Linked DNA regions of Homo sapiens. The protein of the gene in region 2 purifies or fractionates together with the protein of the main gene of each other region. This does not show direct contact. Each region holds a gene or a part of one and is shown on either strand. Other genes may lie near its edges.

Evidence for each region.
Region 1: the proteins of PTPN5 (region 2) and ALG1 purify together in Homo sapiens (affinity purification with mass spectrometry, with the first as the bait; one large-scale study listed by BioGRID). This does not show direct contact.
Region 3: the proteins of PTPN5 (region 2) and DHCR7 purify together in Homo sapiens (affinity purification with mass spectrometry, with the first as the bait; one large-scale study listed by BioGRID). This does not show direct contact.
Region 4: the proteins of PTPN5 (region 2) and TOMM70 purify together in Homo sapiens (affinity purification with mass spectrometry; one large-scale study listed by BioGRID and IntAct). This does not show direct contact.
Region 5: the proteins of PTPN5 (region 2) and SPTLC2 purify together in Homo sapiens (affinity purification with mass spectrometry, with the first as the bait; one large-scale study listed by BioGRID). This does not show direct contact.
Region 6: the proteins of PTPN5 (region 2) and DHCR24 purify together in Homo sapiens (affinity purification with mass spectrometry, with the first as the bait; one large-scale study listed by BioGRID). This does not show direct contact.
Region 7: the proteins of PTPN5 (region 2) and HACD3 purify together in Homo sapiens (affinity purification with mass spectrometry, with the first as the bait; one large-scale study listed by BioGRID). This does not show direct contact.

Annotation. Positions count from the first base shown.
Region 1 is NC_000016.10:5,078,343-5,081,842, forward strand, and holds part of ALG1 (chitobiosyldiphosphodolichol beta-mannosyltransferase), read left to right. Parts: intron 1-414; coding exon 415-536; intron 537-721; coding exon 722-760; exon of another isoform or gene 761-764; intron 765-1,405; coding exon 1,406-1,465; intron 1,466-2,603; coding exon 2,604-2,714; intron 2,715-3,500. UniProt on the Homo sapiens protein: Mannosyltransferase that operates in the biosynthetic pathway of dolichol-linked oligosaccharides, the glycan precursors employed in protein asparagine (N)-glycosylation.
Region 2 is NC_000011.10:18,743,299-18,746,798, forward strand, and holds part of PTPN5 (tyrosine-protein phosphatase non-receptor type 5), read right to left. Parts: intron 902-3,500; coding exon 708-901; intron 132-707; coding exon 24-131; intron 1-23. UniProt on the Homo sapiens protein: May regulate the activity of several effector molecules involved in synaptic plasticity and neuronal cell survival, including MAPKs, Src family kinases and NMDA receptors.
Region 3 is NC_000011.10:71,438,394-71,441,893, forward strand, and holds part of DHCR7 (7-dehydrocholesterol reductase), read right to left. Parts: intron 3,048-3,500; coding exon 2,834-3,047; intron 2,444-2,833; coding exon of another isoform or gene 2,393-2,443; intron 691-2,392; coding exon 486-690; intron 1-485. UniProt on the Homo sapiens protein: Oxidoreductase that catalyzes the last step of the cholesterol synthesis pathway, which transforms cholesta-5,7-dien-3beta-ol (7-dehydrocholesterol,7-DHC) into cholesterol by reducing the C7-C8 double bond of its sterol core.
Region 4 is NC_000003.12:100,391,090-100,394,589, forward strand, and holds part of TOMM70 (mitochondrial import receptor subunit TOM70), read right to left. Parts: intron 1-3,500. UniProt on the Homo sapiens protein: Acts as a receptor of the preprotein translocase complex of the outer mitochondrial membrane (TOM complex). Recognizes and mediates the translocation of mitochondrial preproteins from the cytosol into the mitochondria in a chaperone dependent manner.
Region 5 is NC_000014.9:77,515,638-77,519,137, forward strand, and holds part of SPTLC2 (serine palmitoyltransferase 2), read right to left. Parts: intron 2,531-3,500; coding exon 2,401-2,530; intron 1-2,400. UniProt on the Homo sapiens protein: Component of the serine palmitoyltransferase multisubunit enzyme (SPT) that catalyzes the initial and rate-limiting step in sphingolipid biosynthesis by condensing L-serine and activated acyl-CoA (most commonly palmitoyl-CoA) to form long-chain bases.
Region 6 is NC_000001.11:54,880,696-54,884,195, forward strand, and holds part of DHCR24 (delta(24)-sterol reductase precursor), read right to left. Parts: intron 3,079-3,500; coding exon 2,923-3,078; intron 1-2,922. UniProt on the Homo sapiens protein: Catalyzes the reduction of the delta-24 double bond of sterol intermediates during cholesterol biosynthesis.
Region 7 is NC_000015.10:65,554,463-65,557,962, reverse strand, and holds part of HACD3 (very-long-chain (3R)-3-hydroxyacyl-CoA dehydratase 3), read right to left. Parts: intron 3,077-3,500; coding exon 3,003-3,076; intron 1,225-3,002; coding exon 1,060-1,224; intron 1-1,059. UniProt on the Homo sapiens protein: Catalyzes the third of the four reactions of the long-chain fatty acids elongation cycle. This endoplasmic reticulum-bound enzymatic process, allows the addition of two carbons to the chain of long- and very long-chain fatty acids/VLCFAs per cycle.

The DNA.
Region 1 (3,500 bases), on a different chromosome or scaffold from region 2:
TTCCCAGGCCTGTGGCAGGATCTGTGGACCTGTGTGTCCCCTGGGGTGTCTCATGGGGCTAAGGAGGGGACCTTTGTGCAGGTCTACGCACCCTGAGGTGTGCCCTGGGTAAGCTGGGGTGGTGTGGGAGGGCGTCCCTGCACCCTCATCTTGAGTCCAGGGGATGATAAGACAGTAAGTCCCGTGGAGAAAAGGAATGAGTCAGTCTTGTTTGCTGTTGTAACCTTAGCACCCAGCAACAATATTAGAGAAAGCAAGCCCAGGCCTCAGATGGCAGGGGTGGCCTGGTGCTGCTGATGTGGCTGGGCACCCCAACCTCTGGGAGCCTGCAGGCCTCGCCACGGCAGGAGATGCCTCTCCTGGGTCCCGGGCCTGCTCTATGGCCTCTCACAGGCTTTTTTTCTGCTCCTTCAGCTCAGAACCTGAGGACCCAGTCACGGAGCGGTCGGCCTTCACGGAGCGGGATGCTGGGAGCGGGCTGGTGACGCGTCTCCGTGAGCGGCCAGCCCTGCTGGTCAGCAGCACGAGCTGGACAGGTCTGCAGGACCCCTGGGGCACTTGGGGTTGGTGTGACGGGCACCTGGCCAACCTGTGTTCTCCTCACCCCTGCCAGTCCTGCATGCTCCCACCCTGCCACGGTCTCAATGAGAACGGGAGGGCCTGTGAGCTGGAAGAGGGGTGTCTAGAAACAGGCCCCTGACATTCAATTCTCTTCTCATAGAGGACGAAGACTTCTCCATCCTGCTGGCAGCTTTAGAAAGTAGGTGTGTGGCTGCGGTGAGGAGCTCTGGGCTTGTCGGGGGCCACTGAGCTGTAAGCTGCTTGCCTGGCCTGCAGCATGTTCCTGTCCCAGGCCACTGGGTGGGGCAGCCTGGGGACAGCGGGGGTGGTGGAAGTGGGCCGCCCTGAATCCCCAGTTGGGTCATTGAGTGACCAGGCCCTCAGGCTGAAATGCCCCCTCCAGGAGAGTATCTCACACAGGCTGGTGGCCTCCCCGCCAGAGCAGTGCTCTTTCTCCACCTGACCAGGTGACTCTGGCTATTGTTTATTTAAAAATTTTTTTCTGAATGGGCATGGTGGCTCAAACCTGTAATCCTAGAACTCTGGGAGGCCGAGGCAGGCAGATCATCTGAGGTCAGGAGTTCGAGACCAACCTGGCCAACAGGGCGAAACCTGTCTCTACTAAAAATACAAAAATTAGCTAGGTATGGTGGTGGGCGCCTGTCATCCCAGCTACTTGGGAGGCTGATGCACGAGAATTACTTGAACCCAGGAGGCAGAGGTTGCAGTGAGCTGAGATCGCGCCATTGCATTCCAGCCTGGGTGACAGAGTGAGAGTCTGTCAGAAAAAAAAAAAAATTCTATCAGAAATTCCATGTAGAATTGTTTCTTTTTCTAAACACAGAGTTTGAACAACTGACTCTTGATGGACACAACCTTCCTTCTCTCGTCTGTGTGATAACAGGTACTGCCTGGGACCCTGGGTGTCTGTTTGGTTGGGGGATGGCGGAGGGGGAGGGGCACGCAGCCTTTACCCTGTGCTTCCCATGATCTTGTCTCCTTAATCCTCACTGCAGCTCTGCCATAGGGTCTTATACTGCTTGACATGGGGGAAACTGAGGCTCAGAGGCAGGGCAGGGAGCCCAGATTTGAATCTGTAGATACCAAGCTTTCTACTTTTTCAGTAGTTTCCAAGCATCTTTTTTTTGTTGTTGTTACGTCATTGGTGTCTTTTTTTTTTTTTTTTGAGACAGAGTCTCTGTCGCCCAGGCTGGAGTGCAGTGGTGCGATCTCGGCTCACTGCAACCTCCGCCTCCCACATTCAAGCAATTCTCATGCCCCAGCCTCCCGAGTGGCTGGGACTACAGGTGCCCACCACAACTGCCTAATTTTTGTATTTTTAGTAGAGACAGGGTTTCACCATGTTGGCCAGGCTGGTCTTGAACTCCTGACCTCAGGTGATCCACCCGCCTTGGCCTCCCAATATGCTGGAATTACAGGCACAAATCACTGTGCCCGGCCATGTCATTGGTGCCTTAACCAAGCCTCTTAATTTTTCAAACGGAAGAGCCCCTGTCCCACAGTTACTGCTGCTGAGCCCTTTCAAGGTGACTCAGTGAGGAGGGAGAAAAGCGGAAGCGGTGTGGGAAGAGGCCGGGTCTGGGCCAGCTGCTGGTCCTGCTCTCCTCCCTCCTCTGGCCTCTAGGCTCCCAGGAGTGGTTTGGAACCCGCGCCATATGCTCTGGGGGCTGTGCCAGGGCAGGAGGAGTCCTCGTGTCCCCTGTGCACAACACAGACAAAAGGCTGGGTCCACCCAGTGGGCGGTCGGGTGCCAGGCCAGTGCTTACCCCGCCATGTTTGCAGCCCGAGGCCAGCTGGCTGCAGGTGAAAGGCTATGCGTCAGGGGTCAGGGTGCACACACCCCTGCAGGTCTCAGGGCTCCTGGGTTGCTTCTGGAAGGGCCCGGATGGGGCCTGACTGGAGCTGCTGAGGGGTGGAGCTTCTGGGAAAGGGATCCCTCCTAGGGGGGAGTGTCTTGGGCCTGGGGCCACGTGGCAGGGACAGAGATGGGTCCATGGCAGTGTCTGCTCTTCTCTGTGAAGGCAAAGGGCCTCTGAGGGAGTATTATAGCCGCCTCATCCACCAGAAGCACTTCCAGCACATCCAGGTCTGCACCCCCTGGCTGGAGGCCGAGGACTACCCCCTGCTTCTAGGTGAGAGGCCAGCAGGAGGCTCAGGGAGGAGGCGGGGGGAACAGGGTGGGCGGGATGTACTTTTTCTGAAAAGGTGGCTCTGGAGGCCACTGGGGGACGGGACCTGGGCTCTGGCTGAACTCCCAGGAGGAGGCTACTTCCTGGTGTGCCAGCCCCTCCCTGCCAGGTGGCCCCAGGGGCCGTTTACCAAGGGGTTTGAGGAGGCCACGTCCTTTCAGCCTGCCACGCCCTCCATTCAGTCCTCTTCCTTCCTGCAGGAGGGCTGGGCCTGGGGTTGGGGCCACTGTTGCCCAGGTGTGGGAGGGCAGTGGCTTTGGGAGGTACGGGGACGATGTGTCAAACAGCGTCGCCTCTCCCAGTGAGATGGTTCTCCTTTGCCTCCGTCTCTTTCCCCGTTGATTTCTCCAAGTGGGGAGTCGTGCCTTGGTCCTGATGCGTCTCTAGAGCTGCATCTTCCAGCTTCGAGTGAGCAGAGCAGTTGGAGGCTGAAGGCCTTTTCCTGGCAGGACTCTCCACCTAGTCTTTGTTTTAGACAGTCTCGCTCCGTTGCCTAGGCTGGAGTGCATGATCTCAGTTCATGCAACCTCTGCCTCCTGGGTTCAAGCGATTTTCCCACCTCAGCCTCCCGAGTAGATTACGGGATTACAGGAGCCCACCACAACACCTGGCTTATTTTTGTATTTTTAGTAGAGACAGGGTTTCACCATGTTGGCCAGGCTGGTCTTGAACTCCTGACCTCAAGTGATCCTCCTGCCTTGGCCTTCCTAAGTGCTTGGATTCCAGGTG
Region 2 (3,500 bases):
AGGACTCCCCAAAGCTTACTTACCGTGGGTTCCAGCTGTTTCAGGAGCGTCAGCAAAGAGGAGACGAGGTTTGTGGCGTTCTGTGACCAGATGTGGCCATAACCGCTGAACCAGAGCACCCCACAGGCAAGCTGGGGCACAGGGGAGCAGGCTGAGTATGGAGCCGGCCCCCTTCCCCCGTGTTCCCCCAGCAGAGCTCACCTGCAGCCTCAACCTGGCCCTGCATGGAGGCTCCTGAACCTCTAAGGTCCAGACCGGGCAGCTGAGAGCAGGGCCCCGGTGCTGCGTGCCCGGGGAGGCCTCAGGACTCTCCTTGGAGAAAAGCTGACTGAAGGGAACCAAGAGAAAGCCCTTTCCAGAGAGGACCTCACAAATATGTACATCAAAAGAGTAGTCTCCTAGAAAGGCCTCCACAGACAGGAGTTCTCAGGAGAACCCTGTACGGCTGGGAGCTCAGGGGTCGGGGAGGCCCTGTGTTCTGGATTCTTAGGTTAGGGAGGCAGGGTGTGAGGTCTCAGATGCTGGTGCGGTAGCTCAGAATTCCAGCCTTCCCCTTATCCCAGCCTTGAGGGCTTGGAGCTCCTGAGGAACACCAGGGAGGCCCCTTATCCTCCTGCCTTCCAGGTGGCCATCCTGGGGAGGAAGTGGGAGGCTGGCCCTCCACCCACCCTCTCTCCAGACCCTTGTGAGGCCTGTGCCATCCTTACCAGGAACTGTGAGGCAGCGAACAGGCACAGGCTGCTCCTGACAGTGAGGGAGTGGCTCCCAGCGCCTCGAGGTGGTGGCTTCTGAGCTGGATCTGAGGGCGGCGAGGGAGGAGGGGGTGGCGGCATCTCTCTCTGTGAGTCCTGGAGCCCTTCAGCCTCGTCCAGTGCCTCCATCACTATCGGCTGGGGGAGACCTGTGGAAGATGGGCCATGCGGGCCGATGACTCCGGCCCTGTCCACAGGCAGGGCTCTGCCACCCCTTTTGGGGTGGCTGTGGCTGCCTCTCAATCTGGGATCAGTCAGCGTGGCTCCACTTCCAGCAGTCACCCTCGATTAGCAAAGCAATATTCACCTACCTTCGTCAGAAAGAGCTAAGTGTGGGTGGACAAATTATTTCTCTTTTATTTCTCCAGTAACAGAGTTAAAATGGCAGGAGGTTTTCCAGGGAGTTAATATAGTTGTATTTACGCAGCTTCATTCTTTTCCATTTCTTAAGGAAACAAAAAACAACCACCTCAAACTCAATTAAAAAAGAAGCAGCAGCAGGAAAAAAAAAAAGACATGGCATAACCAGGCCATGACCCTGAGCAACCCACCCATGCCTGCCCTGTGGATTTTTGTCTCATGTGGGCCATGCCCTAACTGGGGCTGGAGGCTAGACTCTTGACAAGACCACATCCATGTGCCCCCACCCCATCTCAAGACTCCCTGCACGATGAGAGGGGCTGGGGGCAGTTAGGGCGAAGTGCCGGAAAATCTTGGTGTAGCAGAATTGATACCAGATGTCTGGGGCCAGTTCTGGGTCTGTCCCTAGTGACTCCGGAGAGTCACTCCCTCTCTGGATCTTAAGTTTCCCCACCTGGAAGATGGGGTTTGGGTTCAACCCTAGTTTTTCTAACTGTGCTTTACAGAGCCCTAGTGTTTTCTCAGGTGCACAGGGGCTGAGGCCCTATGTCTGCCCCTCAAGGGCAGAAGCTCTGCCTGTCCCTGTACCATATACTGGATTTCTGCTAAGATTATTTCAAGGCAGAGTTCTGCTACTAAAGAGTCTGAATACCATTGGCTTAGATCTGAGCCCCTGGCTATAGCATGGGGATTCTAGCTGCGGCCACCTCAGTGAGTCCCAGATATTGGAGGTCTGCACCCAAACTCACAGGATTTAGTTTACTGTCAAGAAAAGAGGGACCAAAACATGGATGTATACAGTGTGACAGCTGGGAAGGGGCTGTCTACATATCATGCTGTATATGGGACAATGGACTTGGGTGACAACAGAACCATGTGGGCCCAGCATAGCCGTTTGTCCATGAGCTGCTCGCTCACTTGACAAACATTTACTGAGCACCTCCCATGGCCTGGATCAAGACTGTGGTGCAGAGAACCCGGTCCTGGAGCTGTGTTTGTAGCACAGGCTCCTGCTTCCCAGCCGGGCCCATTTCAGCTTCACTCCTTGCAGTTCCTCAGGTAAGCCCGCCCCCTATGCTTTGACATGCTGTTCTCTCTGCCTGGAACATCCCTCCAACACTCTGTTCCCCTCCCCTGCCTCCCACACACTTTGCCAAGGTAACACCTATTCATCTTGTAGACCTCAATCAGATGTCCCCTGAAGTAGGTCCTGCTCTATCACATACGAGCACCCCATGCCTCTCTTTCATATCATCATCATCATCAGCAGCAGCAGCAATATGCCTGGAATGTGCAGGGGCCCTTCTCTGTGTGCCTGGGTTAATTTTTTAATTCTTCACAGCACCCCTATGGAGTTGCTACTACTATTATCCCCATTTTACAGAAAAGGAAGATGAGGTGCAGAGAGGTTAACAGAGCTGCCCAAGGTTGCTTAGCTGGTAAGGGTAGAGGTGGCTTCAATCCAGGGCAGTCAGATAGGCTTCAGGCTACATTACACTTGCCATGGGTTGTAAAATAATTTTTGAATATCGTCTCCTCTACCCACCAAGAAGTTCCATGAAGGCAGAGTGGTATCAGCTTTGTTCATCCTCATGTCTACAGCATGTAGCGTAAGTCCTGGTGTGTAAGGCTACAATAAATGTTTACTAAATGAGTGAATGATGATGGGCAAAGGACACTCTTTTACTCAGTTTTTTTTGCCTGATAAATGGAGATAATAATACATACTTTGAAAAGCTGTTATAAATATAAATATATATATATATATATATATATATATATACATTTTTTTTTTTTTTGAGATGGAGTCTTGTTCTGTCACCCAGGCTGGAGTGCAGTGGTGCAATCTTGGCTCACTGCAACCTCCGCCTCCTGGGTTCAAACAATTTTCCTGCCTCAGCCTCCGGAGTAGCTGGTATCGCAGGTGTGTGCCACCATGCCTGGCTAATTTTTGTATTTTTAGTAGAGACAGGGTTTCACCATGTTGGCCAGGCTGGTCTTGAACACCTGACCTCAAGTGATCCACCCACCTTGGCCTCCCAAAGTGCTGGGATTACAGGTGTGAGCCACTGCGCCCGGCAGCTGTTATAAATATTTTAGATACTACAGACGAAACACCTAGCATAGTGTTCAGCATTTAGTAAGTACCCAATAAATGGCAGATTATAATGCTAACACATAATTAATTCTTGTCTTCAAAAGGCTCCAGTCTCGTGGCTAAAACAGACCAGTAAAGACATGTTTACAATACAGTGCATTAAGCAATAAATCTAAGTGCCAATGGAGTCTAAGAGGGTCACGAGAGGGTATCTACCTTTGTCCATGGAGGTTATAGTTCCTGACCACCTGAGCAGTCAGTTCAGATCCTGGGAGCAAGGTGAAAAAGGA
Region 3 (3,500 bases), about 53 Mb from region 2:
ACTTTCTGGGTCTTGCTGCTTTTAAGATAAAGAGGAAGACTTCCATGAGGCCTCCAGCCTCACCTGGCTCTGAGCTCCTGAACGCTCTCTGGTCAGGATGCGGGATGTTTCTGAGTGTCCCAGACTTGCCACCCTCTCTCCCTACAGGGGGTTCCTGGAGCATGCACTCTTGCCTCCACTCTACCAGGTTAACTCCCACACACCCCCAGATTCTACCCAGGTGTAATCCCCAAGGGAGACCTTCCTGGACCACGCCTGGCTGCGTAGAACCTGCCTCCTCCCCTCCCAGGGCTGGCAGAGACAGGCACCCAAGGATGGCTTCCTTCACCAAGTGCTCGCCGGCTGCTTCCTGGTGACACCTGGGGAGGGCAGCTGACTCTCTTTTACAAGCAGTAGATTAAGGTCATGGGAATACGCTCTGGCTTGCGGGTTCCCCCAGAGCCTGCCGGCATCGGCGTTTCACCCTCTCCAGCCATGACAGGCACCTGCAGGACGTTGACCAGGACCATGGCATTGGTCACATGGCTGTGGAGCTCCCGCTGCTTCGCTGCGAAGGACAGGTTGATGAGGGTCCAGGCGACGATCCCGGGGCGCCCATTGAAGAACAGCTTGAAGTCAAACCACTTCCCGATCCGAGGGTTAAACTCGATGCCCATCATGTAGTTGTAAAAGAAATTGCCTGTGAATTTGCTTAAAAATATAAATAAAAGATACATTTAGTGGATGAGCATATCTCACAAGATGAAGCCACCTTACTTAGCGAGAGCCCAGCACTGGCCCAGGGTCCTAAAGGGTAACGTGAGACGGCGCAGGCAGAAGCTGGCCATGAGCCGCTGGGACCCCCACGGCTGGAATGCTTGTCGGCTGGTTCCTGGCGCCCTCATTCACTTTGCTTTGCATTCAGCTGCTGCTCAGCAGAGACTTCCTTAGGCAGAAGCCCAGGGGCACCTGCTCTGCACCCGGGAAGGGTGGGAGACCGGCCCTGGGCTGGTACCTGGGTTTCTCTCTACCCTTCTCCAGATGCCCTTGACGCATGGCACAGGTGAGCTGAAGAACTGGCTTGATTGCACTGAGATTACGTTCTGGGGCCCAAGCACACGGTTTGAAGCCGACGCAGGGCACGTGGGCCCTCATGGGTGAGTGACATTATAAATCACGCCAACGTAGAGAATGACAAACGCACCCTGGGCCCGGCTTCCAGCATGTGCAGGACAAGTTCTTTGACCAGTTACCTGAATCCCCCAATCCCCGGAGGGCCAGAGCATCAGCCGAGATAACCCCTGTGGAGACCCTGACTAGGTCTAGCTGGCTGAGGACACACAACAATTTCTGTGTTAACTAGAAAATCCTATTTTCATGTCCAGTTCCCTCAGGTAGGGTAAGTAGAAAGAAGCAAAACACACAAAGTCTACATGATTATAAGGTAGCGAGGATGATTTCCAGGAGCCATTGAAGGCCAGCCTCGTTATCTGATAACACACAAGCTACAAAGTGTCATCCTCCAGAAACATTTCCCAAGAGCCTAGGTGTAAACCACACTGGGGTTTTTTGGATCCCCCAAACTGAACTGTAAGTCCCACTGCCTACAACTGTCCACAAGAGAACCCCCCAAACATTGGTTTATGATGGATGGATGGATAGATAACAGGGTGAGTGGGTGGAAGGATGGATGAATGGGATGGGGAGAGGAGCAGGTGGATGGATATATGATAGGCAGGGTTGAGCTGGGGTGCAGGGTGGCAGGGATCAGGTGTGTTCAGAAGTGTCACCCAGGAAGCCAGAGGGAGCAGGCTAGGAGGGCCTGAGAGGGTAAGGGAGGCCGGTCAGGAGCTGCGGACATTGCTCAGGCAGGAGGTTGACCTGGATGAGATGATGCATTCCTTCCCCTCGGCACATGCCATTACAGGCCCTGATAGAGTGGATGGATGGGTAAATGGATGGATGACGGGCAGGTGGATGGGTGGGTGGCTAGATGTGTAGGTGGGTGGGTAGGTGGATAGGTGGATGGACAAATAGATGACGGGTGGGTAGACAGACGGGGTGGAGGGTGGATGGGCAGGTGGATGAGATGGATGATGGATGGGTGGGTGGGTAGGTGGAAGGATGGGGAGATGGGCAGGTGGATGGGTGTGTGGCTAGATGTGTAGGTGGGTGGGTAGGTGGATGGGCAGATGGATGAATGGGTGATGGGAGGGTAGATGGATGGATGATGGGTGGGTGGATGTGGGTGATGGATAGGTGGATGGATGATGCATTGGTGGGTGGGTGAATGGGATGGGGCAATGGGTAGGTGGATGATGGGTGAGTAGGTAGATGAATGGGTAGGGGGGTGGATGGGTGGGTGGGGAGATGGGCAGGTGAATGGATGAGTGGACAGAGATGAGTGGCTCACCACTGTCCAGCCATGGGAATGGGTACAAGCCAGCAGGGCTCTCCTGGGAAGCTGTTAATTAAAGCCACAGGGACAATAAGACTCTTCACTAAGGTTGTTTTGGGCCTCACCAGCTTATCCAAAGAAAGAGGCAATGGGCTGCCTGTGCCCCAAGCCAGAAGTTTTTCCTGGCTTCCTTACCCCCACGCCAGCCCTAAAGGCAATGACTTGGCCACCACAGCTGACCTGGCCATCTTCAGCTGCATTCTTGCCAAGGCTGGAGAAGCCACCAAACATTCAGAAAGGATGTTCCCCAGGGTGAAGCAAGTTCCATCCCCCTCCTCCTCTTCCACGGATTCTCAGTGCTCAGGGCTTTACAACCACCTGCCCCAGGCAGCAAGAAAGGCCAGGGGTGAAGTTTGCACTTTCTACATCAGGCTGGACCCGCTGCTAAGAACATACCAGTCTCTGGCGCTGGTGGGGAAGAAGTAGCCCTTGACCATGGCGAAGGTGGAGACGGCATAGCCAAGGATGTTGGCGCACCACAGCAGTGGGATCCAGTTGTCGAAGATGATGGTGGGCGAGAACCAGGACAGGAGATGAGCGTTTGCAAACCAGAGCAGGTGCGTGAGGAGCCAGGCTTGCAGGCCATTGATCTGATACTTGTTCACAACCCCTGCAGATGAAGGATTCAGAAATGAAGGCGCTTTCCCAACCCGCAGTGAGGAGCTTGGCTGGGCTGAAGCATGCCTGGCGGGGGCCCTGGTCACTTTCTGGGCCTCTGCTGCTGCGGACCCTCATCTGGGGCCCCAGGAACCATCTCTGAGGCCCCTATACCCTTGGCCAAGGAACTACCTGCTCCTAGGAAGAGGGAGGGGAGGCTGAGTCCATCCTTTGGTTCTGCATCTCGTTAACTGGCCATAGGCTGAGTGACAGGTGTGCAGTCTGATAGGGAGGTCAGGGCTGAGGGGCAGAAGCAAGTGAGGATGCCCCTGTGGTATGCCTGGCCCCCTCTGTAATTGTTGGGGAGCACCTCAGCCCATCCACCCCTCAAAACAGGGAGCTTCTGGGGGCAGAGTTGGGATGCGGTTCCAGTCTGCACCCACGTGAGAGGCACAAAGCCAGGCTC
Region 4 (3,500 bases), on a different chromosome or scaffold from region 2:
GAGATGGCACCGCTGCACTCCATCCTGGGCAACAGAGTAAGACTCCGTCTCAAAAAAAAAAGTATAGCAAATACAATAATGTATAGTACATATACTTGAGAATGACAATAAACAACTGTGTTACTGGTTTATGTGTTTACTATACATATACTATACTTTTTGTTATGTTAGTATACTCCTACTTTTTTTTAAAGTTAACTATAAAATAGCCTCAAGGCAGGTCTTGAAGGCAAGAGCTACTCTAGAAGAAGGCTTCTTATCATAAGAGATGACAGATCCATGCATGTTAATGCCCTTGAAGATCTTCCAGTGGGACAAGATGTAGAGGAGGACAGGGATACTGATGATTCTGACCTTGTGTAGGCCTAGGCTAATGTATCTGTGTCTTAGTTTTTAACAAAGAAGTTTAAAAGTTTAAAAAAAAAAATTTTTTTAATAAGACAAAGCTTATAGAGTAGGGATATAAAGAAAATATTTTTGTGAAGCTGTACAATGTGCTTGTGTTTTAAGCTAAGTGTTACTTATTTTTTAAGAGACAAAGTCTCCCTATTTGTCCAGGCTGGTATCGAATTCCTGAGATTAAGCAATCCTCCCACCTTAGCCTTCCAAGTAGCTGTACGTTAAGCTAAATGTTACTAAAAAAAGTTAAAAAAATTTAAAAGTTCATAAAGTTAAAAAGTTACATACAGTAAGCTAAGGTTAATTATCGAAGAAAAGTATGTTATAAATTTAGTGTAGCCTAAGGGGTATAGTGTTTAAACAGTATACTACAGTAGCATTCAGTAATGTCCTAGGCCTTTACTTTCACTCACCCACTGACCCAGAGCAGCTTCCAGTCTGACAAGCTCCATGTTAAGTGCTCTAAACAGGTGTACCATTTTTTATCTTTTATACTGTATTTTTACTGGATCTTTTCTATGTTTAGGTACCCAAATATTTACCACTGTGTTACAGTTGCCCACAGTATTCAGCACAATAAAATGCAGTACAGGTTTGTAGCCTAGGATCAATAGGTTATGCCATATAGCATAGGTGCGTAGGAGACTGTACTATCTAGGTTTGTGTCAGTATACTTGATGAAATCCACTAATGATGCACTTATTGGAACGCATCTCTACTGTTAAGTGATGCATGACTATATATTAGGTGGTTGGTAAATTTTTGAGCCAACAAGCAGAAAATTATTAGTCCAAAGAGTAGCAACTGCATATACACACACACATAAATCCAATATTATTCAAGTGAGACACATGATCTAAAGTAAATACTTCAGGTAATACACCAAAGAAAACATTGGGAAACATATCTTTTCAAACAGTATGGAAGATTTCTTTCTTTTCTTTTTTGAGACAGAGTCTTGCTCTGTCACCCAGGCTGGAGTGCAGTGGTGTGACCTCGGCTCACTGCAACCTGTCTTCTGGGTTCAAGTGATTCTTCTGCCTCAGCCTCCTGAGTAGCTGGGATTACAAGTGCACGCCACCATGCCAAGCTAATTTTTGTATTTTTAGTAGAGACATAGGGTTTCACAATGTTGGCCAGGCTTGTCTTGAACTCCTGATCTCAGGTGATCCACACACCTCAGCCTCCCAAAGTGTTGGGATTACAGGCATAAGTTACTGTGCCCAGCCTGGAGATTTCTTAAAGAACTAGAATAGACATAAAAAGAACTAGAGTAGGTCTACCATTTGATTCAGCAATTCTACTACTGGGTATCTACCCAAAGGAAAAGAAGTCATTATATCAAAAAGACACCTGCATGTGTATGTTTATTGCAGCACAATTCACCATTGCAAAGATATGGAACTGGCCAGGCACGGTGGCTCATGCCTGTAATCCCAGCACTTTGGGAGGCAGAGGTGGGTGGGTCACCTGAGGTCAGGAGTTCAAGACCAGCCTGGCCAACATGGAGAAACCCCATCTCTACTAAAAACACAAAATTAGCTGGGCATGGTGGCGCATGCTTGTAATCCCAGCTAGTCGGGAGGCTGAGGCAGGAGAATCGCTTGAACCCGGGCAGCAGAGGCTGCAGTAAGCCGAGATTGTGCCATTGCACTCCAGCCTGGGCAACAAGAGTGAAACTCTGTCTCAAAAAAAAAAAAAAAAAGATAGGGAACCAACCTAAGTGCCCACTGATAAAAGTGTAGTATATATACCCATGGAATACTACTCGGCCATTAAAAAACAAACATGAAATAATGTCTTGCAGCAACTTAGATGGATTTGGAGGCCAATATCCTAAGTGAAGTAACTCAGAAATGGGAAACCAAATACCATATGTTCTCACTTATAAGTGGGAGCTAAACTGCAGGTACACAAAAGCATACAGAGTGACATAACGGACTATGGAGACTCAGAGGAGGGGGGTGGCAGAGCATGTAAGTGATTAAAAAAAAACTACATATTGGGTACAATGTACACTTGGGTGATGAGTGCACTAAAATCTCAGACTTTACCACTATACAATTCATCCATGTGACCAAAAACCACTTGTACCACAAAAGATATTGAAATAAAAAATAATAAATATATCTTTTCTCTCTTCAGTGTACTGAGACTTGTCAAACGAGGCAGAACCTAGGAACATACCCCTCAGCTCTTAATGACATGAAATCTACTCTAGAAAACAGGTTACATTTTGAAATGAAAGCTACAATATTAAGGTACAATCCAGGTAAATCTAGTGGAATACAAAGTAAGAAAATCAGGTTTTGCTTAGGATAGTCAGTGAAGGCTACTCATGAGAATCCGCTCTGAAATAAAAATGACTAACAAAAGACAGGAAAGTACTCCAGGAAGGAAAAATAACCCTAAAAGGATTAGCCCACATATAGAACCTCAGGAGATCAGAAATGCACCAGCCTCTAAAAACAAGTCCTGCAACACGATTACATGACTACATTGCAAAAAGCTGTCAATGATATACATCTGGCAATAAGAAAACTATTATAAATTCTCAGCATTTATAAAATATTAACCTGATGATCACGTATAGTCACTGTAAAAGAAAATGAGCTAGAATTAGGTACATTAATCTGCGTGTGAGAAAATAAAATGGGTATTAATTTGTCACCATGATGACACACTTATACCCAGTTAAAATATACCTGAGATGGTTTGATGTTTCTCTTAAAATGGTTTTATTGTTTTAAATTTCTCAAACTCAAAAAGCATATATTATACTTGAATCACAGCTTTATAGAAGTAGCAAATAACTCTGGAACACTTACTGTATGAGAAACAATGTTTCAATACTTATTGACCAACTGTTACTTTTTCTTTTTTTTTTTTTGAGATAGAGTTTTGCTCTGTCGCCCAGGGGGGCACGATGTCCACTCACTGCAACCTAAATAACTCTGGAACACTTACTGTATGAGAAACAATGTTTCAATACTTATTGACCAATTGTTACTTACTTACTTTCTTTCTTTTTTTGAGACAGAGTTTTGCTCTGTCACCCAGGCTGGAGTGCAATGGCAGGATCTCAGCTCATTGCAACCTCC
Region 5 (3,500 bases), on a different chromosome or scaffold from region 2:
CTCCCAGATTCAAGTGGTTCTTCCGCCTCAGTCTCCCGAGTAGCTGGGATTACAGGTGCCCCCCACCATGCCTGGCTAATTTTTTGTATTTTCAGTAGAGATGAGGTTTCACTGTGTTGGCAAGGCTGATCTCAAACGCCTGACCTCCCAAAGTGCTGGGATTACAGGTGTGAGCCACCGCACCCAGCCAGGAAAGGCTTTCTTAAGTTTATTACTAGGTATTTTCTTCTTTTGAAAATTGTAAAAGAAATTTTCTTTTCATTTGTTCATTGCTGGTGTATAAAAGCACTAATTTTTTGTGTGCTGATCTTTTACCCTGCAACTTTGATGAATTCATTTATGAGCTCTAGCTGTGTGTGTGTGTGTGTGCGCGCGCGCGCATGTGTGTGTGTGTATTTTACAGCACTTTCTATATACAGAATCATGTCATGAGGCCCATTATTAAATGAAAATTAATTTGTATCTCATAATGGTCTAGTACACGTTTAGTTCCATAAAACATCATAAGACAAAATGACTTTAACAAATCCATGGTTTCAAAAAATGCACTTTATGCTTTAAAAAACTAAATGGGAGGCAAAGCCCAACAATCCCTCAAGAGAATCTTATGAAAAGGATTAGAACTCTCAGTTGGCAAACATACTTGTTGGCAACAGAAATCTCCTTAGATATCCTAAGGAGATATCCTGGTTACATCTAAATTCTTTCATGAATGTGTACAGTTCTCAGAAGTCAAAGTTGTGGTCAGAAGGCATGGATTACTGCCATAGACACTGGTTATAGTTACACAGACTTTTTTTTAAAGGCACATTGAAATTCTGAGTTAACAGGTGAACATGAGAAAGAAAAAAGAAAATTCTTAAAACATCAATAGAGTAGGAAGGAAAGAAAAGCTGAAATCTCTAGGTTAAAAAAAATCATCACAGAAATTCACCAGTAAAATTTCTGAGAAATGAGAAAAATCCATTGGAAAAATCTGACAGGCATAATCAAAATAAAGAAAAAAAAGATACAATATCAAAAAGTTGAATCTAATTGGATATTGTCAGAATGTAATTAAGAATATGCTCACAACACTGTGCCTATAGTTAACAATACTGTATTCGACATGGAAAAATTTGTTAAGAGGACAGATCTCATGTTAAGTGTTCTTACTACAATTTTGTTTTTTAAAAGGGAATACACTTATACTCATAGAAATTTTGCTGTGTAGAAACAGAGAAGAAAAGTCAAGTCTTCGGCTATTCAGGAATACAAAATGTCCATCAAATTGTTATAATTAACTTTTATAAAGAAGCATTCATAATGTTCTTTAGGATTAGTAGCTCTTGCCAGGCAGTGGCTCACGCCTGCAATCCCAGCACTTTGGGAGGCTGAGGCAGGCGGATCACCTGAGGTCGGGAGTTCGAGACCAGCCTGACCAACATGGAGAAACCCTGACTCTACTAAAAATACAAAACTAGCTGGGCATGGTGGCGCATGCCTGTAATCCCAGCTACTCAGGGGGCTGAGGCAGAATTGCTTGAACCCAGGAGGCAGAGGATGTGGTGAGCTGAGATCACGCCATTGCACTCCAGCCTGGGCAACAAGGGCAAAACTCTCTCTCAAAAAAGAAAAAAAAAATTAGTAGCTCTCTAACTCATTAATGGATATTTCTAGCAACTAATTTTATGCAAATGTCATGTTCTAAAGCTTTATAAACTCCCAGATGGCAATAATGATTTAAACTCTGAAATCTTAGACTTGCAACAATAACATATTAAGAGAATATATAGAGATGAGAATATCTTGAGATAATAAATAATTAAGCTTAGTAATAATGATCCCCAACTAGATGCCTGGCAGTGTGGTGGGTGCTGGGATATAGAATCAGTAAAACAGACTTATTCCTATCCTCAATATTTATCTAATGGAGAAGACTGCTATTAAATAATTATAGGTGTGAAGAATTTAGTAAGGGAGAATCTCAGGATTCCAAGGGAACACAGAGCAAGAAGGTGTGGGGCGCCCCTGAGCAATTTTCCTTTAAATGGAGATGTGAAGAATGAGTGGCAGTCAGCCAGGCAGAGGGGAGAGAAAGCTCAAGAGAGAAAATTTTAGACAGAACAACATATGAGAAAGCTTAATGTAGAAATAGCTAGAGTGGAAAGAGAATTGTAGAGTCCATAGTGAGGGAGACAGTAGAGCAAGACAAAGCCGGAAAATTCTCCAGAGCTCTCATGATGCAGGTGTGGTGGGTGACAGTTTTTTTGTAAATGCCAATGTTTTTGGTAGCACTGTCACCCCCTCTGTCTTAGGTGCTCACAAGAACATCAAGATCAATATATTATGAATTTCATCTAATATACAGGCCCTTTTAATAAAAGGCATATTTATATCAAGGTGAAAGTGCCTACTTACAGTATCAAGTATTTCTTTGGTATGAGCTGCTGACAGGCAAAACCTGGCTCTGGACTCAATAATTGGGGTGGCAGGAAATCCAACCACAACGACACCGATGTTCCGCTTCAGCATCTCCCGTCCAAAGGCGCTGCAAAGGGGAAAACAAGAACAGAAACCAGGAGGAGTGAAAAAGCACTCATTACAGAGGACCTGCTGTCCTCAAAGATTTCAACTCTTTGGTGATGCAGGCATTGGAGACTTCTAATAGGAGTTTCCTTTAACTCCTTTTAAAGTTAAAATTGACAGCTCACAAATACTTTTAAAGTCAATCCTAAAGCAGTCTTCTCCTATATGGTGTCCTTCACAAAACTGAAATAACCAGCCTGGGCAACATGGTGAAATCCCGTCTCTACCAAAAATACAAAAAATTAGCTATGTGTGGTGGCATGCACCTGTAGTCCCAGCTACTCAGGAGGCTGAGGCATGAGAATCTCTCGAAGCTTGGAGGCAGAAGCTGTAGTAAGGCAAGATCACACGACTGTACTCCAGCCTGAGCAACAGAGCAAGGCTCTGTCTCAAAAAAAAAAAAAAGTGTCCCTGATATGTAATAGTGGTTCAGAGGCTTCAAAATGAACCTGTATTTAATTAAAATCTGGTCCTTGAAATGTTAAGCTTGGCAGTTTAACATTAATCCGCAAATTCTGAGGATTCTGCAGCTGTGGGGGATCTGCTGTAACACGGCACATCTTTTCTGCTAGCAGAATGGCTGACTGGCATGAGCTCTCCAGATCACACGTTTCTTTAATTGTCTTGGGAACAACACTGCTTCAGAATTCAGGGCTTCCTTTGGTGTCTGTCAGGCCAGTTCACCCGCTGGCTTCAGCTGATTACTCAGACCACACAATTCGTATTTAACAATCCCCCACCCCTATCGTAAGCCAAATTGGAGGCCCTGTGGCCTTACTCCACATCTGTATCTTGTCTAAATAACACATTCTAACTTTTAGTTAATTTTGTCTACTAAATTATGTGGGTTTTTTTTTGAGTCTCTCGCTTTGTCGCCAGGCTGCAGTGCAGTGGCACGATCTTGGCTCACCATAACCTCCACCTCCCAGATT
Region 6 (3,500 bases), on a different chromosome or scaffold from region 2:
TGGAGGTTGCCGAGAACTGAGATAGCACCACTGCACTCCAGCCGGGGCCACAGAGCTAGACTCTGTCTCAAAAAACAAAAATATAAACAAACAAACAAACAAACAAACAAAACCCCCACAATGCATAAAAGAAGAAATTAACAAATTGGGAAAAATTAAAACTTCTGATTTGGCCAGGCGTGGTGGCTCACGCCTGTAATTCTAGCACTTTGGGAGGCCAAGGCAGGCAGATCACCTGAGGTCAAGAGTTTGAGACCAGCCTGGCCAACATGGTGAAACCCCGTCTCTACTAAAAATACAAAAAATTAGCTGGGTGTGGTGGCACATGCCTGTACTCCCAGCTACCCAGGAGGCTGAGGCAGGAGAATCACCGGAACCTGGGAGGCGGAGGCTGCAGTGAACCAAGATCGTGCCACTGCACTCTAGCCAGGGCGACAGAGTGAAACTCTGTCTCAAAAAGAAAAACTAAATAAAGCTTCTGGTTTTCAAAAGAGAAGCCACAGACTGTGAGAAAATATTTGCAAATCATGAATCTAATAAAGGATGTTGTTTCAGGGTCTAATATCCAGCATCAATAAGGAACTTAAACAAACTTACAAGAACAAAACAACCCCCATTAAAAAGTGAATATAAAAAGGACATGAACAGACACTTTTCAAAAGACAAGCATGTGGCCAAGAAGCATATGAAAAAAAGCTCAACATTACTGATAATTAAAGAAATGCAAATCAAAACCACAATGAAATACCATCTGACACAGTCAGAATGGCTATTATTAAAAAGTCAAAAAATAACAGATGCTGGTGAAGTTGCAGAGAAAAAGGAACATTTATACACTGTTGGTGGGAGTGTAAATTAGTTCAACCATGTGGGAGACAGTGTGGTGATTCCTTAAAGACCAAAAAACAGAAGCAGCATTTGACCCAGCAATCTCATTACTGGGTATATATACCCAAAGGAATATAAACCATTGTATCATAAAGACACATGCATGTGTATGTTTACTGCAGCACAACTCACAATAGCAAAGACATGGAATCAACTTAAATGCCCATCAGTGGTAGACTGGATAAAGAAAATGTGGTACGTATACACCATGGAATACTATGCAGCCATGTTCCTTTGCAAGAACATGGATGCAGCTGGAAGCCATTATCCTTAGCAAACTAATGCAGGAACAGGAAACCAAATACCGCATGTTCTCACTTATAAGTGGGAGCTAAATGATGAGAACACATGGACACATACAGGGGAACAACAGACACTGGGTCCTATCAGAGGGTGGAGGGAGGGAGAAGGGAGAGGATCAGGAAAAATAACTAATAGGTACTAGGCTTAATACCTGGGTGATGAAATAATATGTACAACAAACCCCATGACACACGTTTACCTATATAACAAACCTGTACAGGTACCACTTAATTTAAAAGTTTAAAAGAAAAAAAAAAAAGATGTTTCCAGAATATATAAGAAAACCACCTGAATTTTTTTAAATTGGCAAAAGATTTGATCAGGCCTCACCAAAGAAGATATACAAATAGCAAACATGCACATGGAAAGATCATTAGTCACTAGGGAAATGTGAATTAAAATTACAATGAAAAACTACTACACATCTATTAGAATGGCTAAAATTAAGACTAACCATATCAAGTCTATTACAATGTGGAACAAGAACAACACTCACGCTGCTGGTGGAAATGTAAAATGCTACAATCACTTGGAAAAAAAATTTGGCACTTCCTTAAAAAGTTAAATGTACACCCACCTTATGATCTAGCCATTCCATTCCTAGATATTTGCCCAAGAGAAAGGAAGGCATGTGCCCATACAAAGACTGTTCACAAATGTTCCATTTTATTTGTAATTGCCCCAAACTGGAGCCAGCCAAAATGTCCATCAGTAGGTGAATGGATAAACCAGCTGTGATACATCCACACAATATGTGTGGGAATATGACTCAGCAGTGAAAGAGAATGAACTATTGACACACCTTTCAACATGGATGAATCTCCAAATAAAGATGTTGAGTGAAAGAGGCTAGACAAACAAAAAGTACTGTATGATTCCATTTATATAAACTCTAGAATCAAACTAATTTATAGTGGCAGAAAGGTCATTGTTTGCCTAAGGCTGTGGGGGGCGGGTAGGGGAAGAGGCAGGGCTAGGGGCTAGAGGAAGGGATTACCAAGGAGCATGAGGAGATTTTGGGGTGTGATGGGTATGTTTGTTGTCTTGATTGTGGTAAGAGTTTTACCACACTTTAAATACGTCAATAAAGCTATTAAAAAAAATGGCACAGAGAGATTAAGTAACTTGGCCAAGGTCTCACAATAATAACAAAATGCCATCAAGTAGACATACCATATTTAATGACTACCCTATTATTGGATATTGTGTTGTTGTCAATTAGAAATAAAGCTGTGATATAATCACTCTGTGTTGGGTATCTTTATACTGAAGCCTATTTCCTTTTTCCTTAAGCCAGGTTTCGAGAAGTAAAATTACTAGATGGGCCAAAAAGTATGTACATTTCGAAGGCTATTAAACAAGAGGGTTTCCAGGAAGCTTGTAACAAGACCCATGTCTCTCAGTCACTTCTGTAGCCCATTTTTTACCAGCACACTTCCTTATCAGGAAGGGGTAAGTAGATTCCTTTTTGCCTCTCATTTTTGCTCACGAATTCCCCATTCCTGACTTCCTGTGGAAACGCAAAGGGTTCCCCTGACCTATTATGACCCATCTCTCCCCTGGTGGCTGTGAGGCTTGAGGACAGCAATGGCAGGGAGTATCTTCTATGACTGTGGGCATTGGTCCTGTCCACTCTGCAATGCCCTTGGCTAAAATCATCTCCCTATGAGTCACTTGCACCAGGGGCAGTGCCCCACCTGCTCCCAGAGCCCGGAAAAGTGCTACTCTCACCTGTTTCTTGGTGTCCACTTCCAGAATGTCCATCAGGTTGATCATGATGTTTTTGTGTGTCTTCTTGTACTTCCCGACACGTAGTGAGACAGTGAGCCAGCCAGGGCGCCCCGTGCACATGAAGGTCTTGCTACCCTGCTCCTTCCATTCCCGCACCTGCAACCACAGGACAGAGGGTGAGCTGGCCCCACTGGGAATCCCCAGAGCAGCCTGCAGCCCTGCTTTCTTCAAGGGCGAGCTGGGAATGATGCCTCCATCAGGCACTGGAGAAACAGAACAATGAAAAGGCCTGCTGGCCCTACCCTCTGGCACCTCCCTGGCCAGCAAGGCTGACAGAAAAGCCAACATATTGCTACACCACAAGGCAGAATGATGAAAGAGCTAGAAGAGAGGATCGAAGTGTTCTGAAAACATTAACTCTAGCTGGGAAGTTCAGAAAAGGTTTTGTAATGGTGATAATAGCAAGTATAAAAATGAGGACCATTTACTGGGTATTCCCAACACACTAGGCATCTACTGCACACTGTCTTGTGTAATTCCTACAACAGTCCCAGGAAGTTACGATGACACCCTTTTTT
Region 7 (3,500 bases), on a different chromosome or scaffold from region 2:
GTGCTCAAAAAAAAAAAAAAAAACAGTCCCATAATGATGGCGCTTTCTCAAAAAGATACAAAAGCCAAATGAAAGATGGGCAGGATGAGGACATAACCAAAGGCCAGTTAGTGCCAAAGCTGGAAGAATTTGAGCAACAAAATAAATAATATTAGATTATAACTCAAAGTATAAAATAAATACCCATGTACTCACATGATATAAATGATTGAATAAATAAATGGGAGACAATAGACATGCATAATTATTCTCCTATGCAGAAGAATTCCAAATAAATTATGTAGATACTCCCTCCATCTAAAGGACAGGAAGCATAACTCCCTGCTCCTTAAATGTAGGCTACACATAGTGACTTCCTTCCAAGGAGAGCCAAGAGGAAAATAACCTTATGGTAGAGAAACCTGATAAGCGTCACCTCAAGCCAGCTAACCCATGGTTAATATCAACAGTGATGTGTCACGTTGACAGTATGTACTTTTTTTTTTTTTTTTTGAGACTCTCGCTCTGTTGCCCAGGCTGGAGTGCAGTGGCGTGATCTCGGCTCACGGCAAGCCCCGCCTCCCGAGTTCACGCCATTCTCCTGCCTCAGCCTCCTGAGCAGCTCCGACTACAGGCATGCACCACCACGCCCGGCTAATTTTTTGTATTTTTAGTAGAGACAGGGTTTCACTGTGCTAGCCAGGATGGTCTCTATCTCCTGACCTCGTGATCCACGCACCTTGGCCTCCCAAAGTGCTGGGATTACAGGCGTGAGCCACCGTGCCCGGCCGTATGTACTCTTGATATGATGTGATAAGAATTGCACTTTACTTCAGTGGTCTTCTCCTCAACATCTATCACCTTAGTCTAGTTGTAAGAGAAACATCAGACAGATTTCAACCGAAGGAAAGTCTATAAAATACATAGCCAATACTTCTTGAAAATCACATCACCAGGTCTTTAAATGAATTTGTAACTTTGTAGCTATTCTTTCAGACCGAGAGGTATCTGAAGTGGCCTGAATAACGTGGGTTCCCCATGATTTGTCCTCAATGGCTAGATCCTAGGATCCTTACTAACCTTAGCTCTGAGCTCCATTTCCGCATCAGATTCATCCAGCCAACGATCAAAGTCAGGAGCCAAAAACAGTGGTCGCTTTTCCTGCTTTGTGAGTCTCTCCCACCACTGACTCACTTTCTTCTGTACTGTAATGTTTACCTGCCTCTGGGTCAGTTTGTAAACAGGCTAGGAGAGAAAGTGAAAATGTGAGAATGCCCTCTTCTGTTCCCTGAAGCAGCACCATGCCAGGGGCGCCGTACATAGAAGCTGCAGGATATATTTATTCTCCTTCTTTCTCTGGTCCTGCAAGTCCTGATGCAAAGGGAACATCTAGACCAGGGGTCTCCAACTCCTGGGCCATGGACTGATACTGGTCCATGGCCTGTTGGGAATCGGGCCACACAGGAGGAGCTGAGTGGTGGGCAAGTGAGTGAAACTTCACCTATATTTAGACTCGCTCTCCATCACTTGCATTACTGCCTAAGCCCTGCCTCCTGTCAGATCAGCATTGGCACAAGATTCACATAGGAGCGTGAACTCTATTGTGAATTGTGCATGCAAGGAATCTAGGTTGCTCACTCTTTATGAGACTATAATGCCTGATGATCTGTCACTGTCTCCCATCACCCCCAGATGGGACTGTCTAGTTGCAAGAAAACAAGCTCAGGGCTCTCACTGATTCTACATTATGGTGAGTTGTATTCATTATATATTACAATGTAATAATAACAGAAATAAAGTGCACAACAAATGTAATGCATTTGAATCACCCTGAAACCATCCCCATTCCACCATCTGTGGAAAAAGTGCCTTCCACAAAATTGGTCCCTGGTGCCAAAAAGGTTGATCTAGACCAACGGCTGGCATGGAGAACTGGTAAGGACATAATGTCCTTCTCTGATTCCCCCAGTGAATGATACAGGAGGATATCAGGATAAGAAAGGCAAATAGTTCCTGGTTAGGCTGGAGGGAACTAGCATGAACCTCCTGCCACAGCCACATCATGCAAGGTACTATGTCCAATCACCCTCTCAAGGGTACTGCATCCAATTACCCTCAGCTTATAAATTTTCCTCCCATGAAAATGACTGTCCTGGCTCAGCAGACCCCGGTTTTAGAAACACCTGCATCAAGATCAGAACTGTATTGGATCAGTTACAGATTTTTTCACAGGGGTCAATTTGGGGAGTCTTCCCAACTAAACTCAAATTCTTATAGGCCATTCCAGCTCATTGTTTGTCTACATGTCCTGTCCCTTTTCTCCAAAGGAAGCTCCATGACAGGTTCTCTGCCCACTGTACCACTGGTTATTATTCATGCTTTCTCAAAACAACTGAGCACCTGCGCACGGAAATCAAGAAGCTCAAGCCACCAGAGCTAAGTGTAATTCCAGAAGCCAAAATACCCCATCTATTGGATTCTCTCCCTGCTTATGAGAGAAGCTTCCTCAGGCTCTAAGGGAAGGGAAGTTTTGATGATATCTGCAGCATTCTTTCTGAAGGCCAGCTGCCTTCACCCTTTCTGATTTCTATTTTTCTCACCTGCAACTGTGGCAAAGTCACATGAAAGTAACCCCTGGTGGGGGCTTCAACCACTCTATGTAACTCTGTTCTCAATGGGTGCCATATTCCTCTGCCATCACTAAAACCAGAGAATATCAGAGCTGGAAGGATCACTTAGTCCAGACCTTCATTTAACACATGAGAACACCAGAACTCGAAGAAGTTAAGAGACTTGTTCAAGATCACACTGCTAATAAATGGCAGGGCCCTGACTCAACTTGGGGTCTCTGACTTTCCCATTCCTCTGCAGCTAAAACCTGGGCTCTGTTCCAAATAAAAGAACTCTATTATTCCCCTTTGGTTTTTATCTTCTTCTCTCCACAAACCCTGCTCCCCATTTCACTAAACTACTGGTATTCATTTCCTAAAATGGGAAGGGAAGTGAGAAAGGAAAGAACATACCTCTGGTTTCACAAGGTCTAAGAACTCCAGGTGAAATTCATAGACATTGTCTCCTTTGGCACCATGTCCTTGAGCTATAAAGAAAGAAATGTGGGTTACTGCAAACTTGAGCAGAGCAAGGCCATCCAAAAGCCAGCTTGGTGCAGTTCTTTCCCAAGTATGCGAATATTACACTTTTTTTTTTTTGAGACAGAGTCTTGCTCTGTTGCCCAGGCTGGAGTGCAGTGGCATGATCTCGGCTCACTGCAAGCTCCGCCTCCCGGGTTCATGCCATTCTCCTGCCTCAGCCTCCCGAGTAGCTGGGACTACAGGCTCCCGCCACCATGCCCAGATAATTTTTTTTATTTTTAGTAGAGACGGGGTTTCACCGTGTTAACCAGGATGGTCTCGATCTCCTGACCTTGTGATCCACCCGCCTCAGCCTCCCAAAGTGCTGGGATTACAGACATGAGCCACTGTACCTGGCACGAATATCATACTTGATTGTAGCCAAAAGGC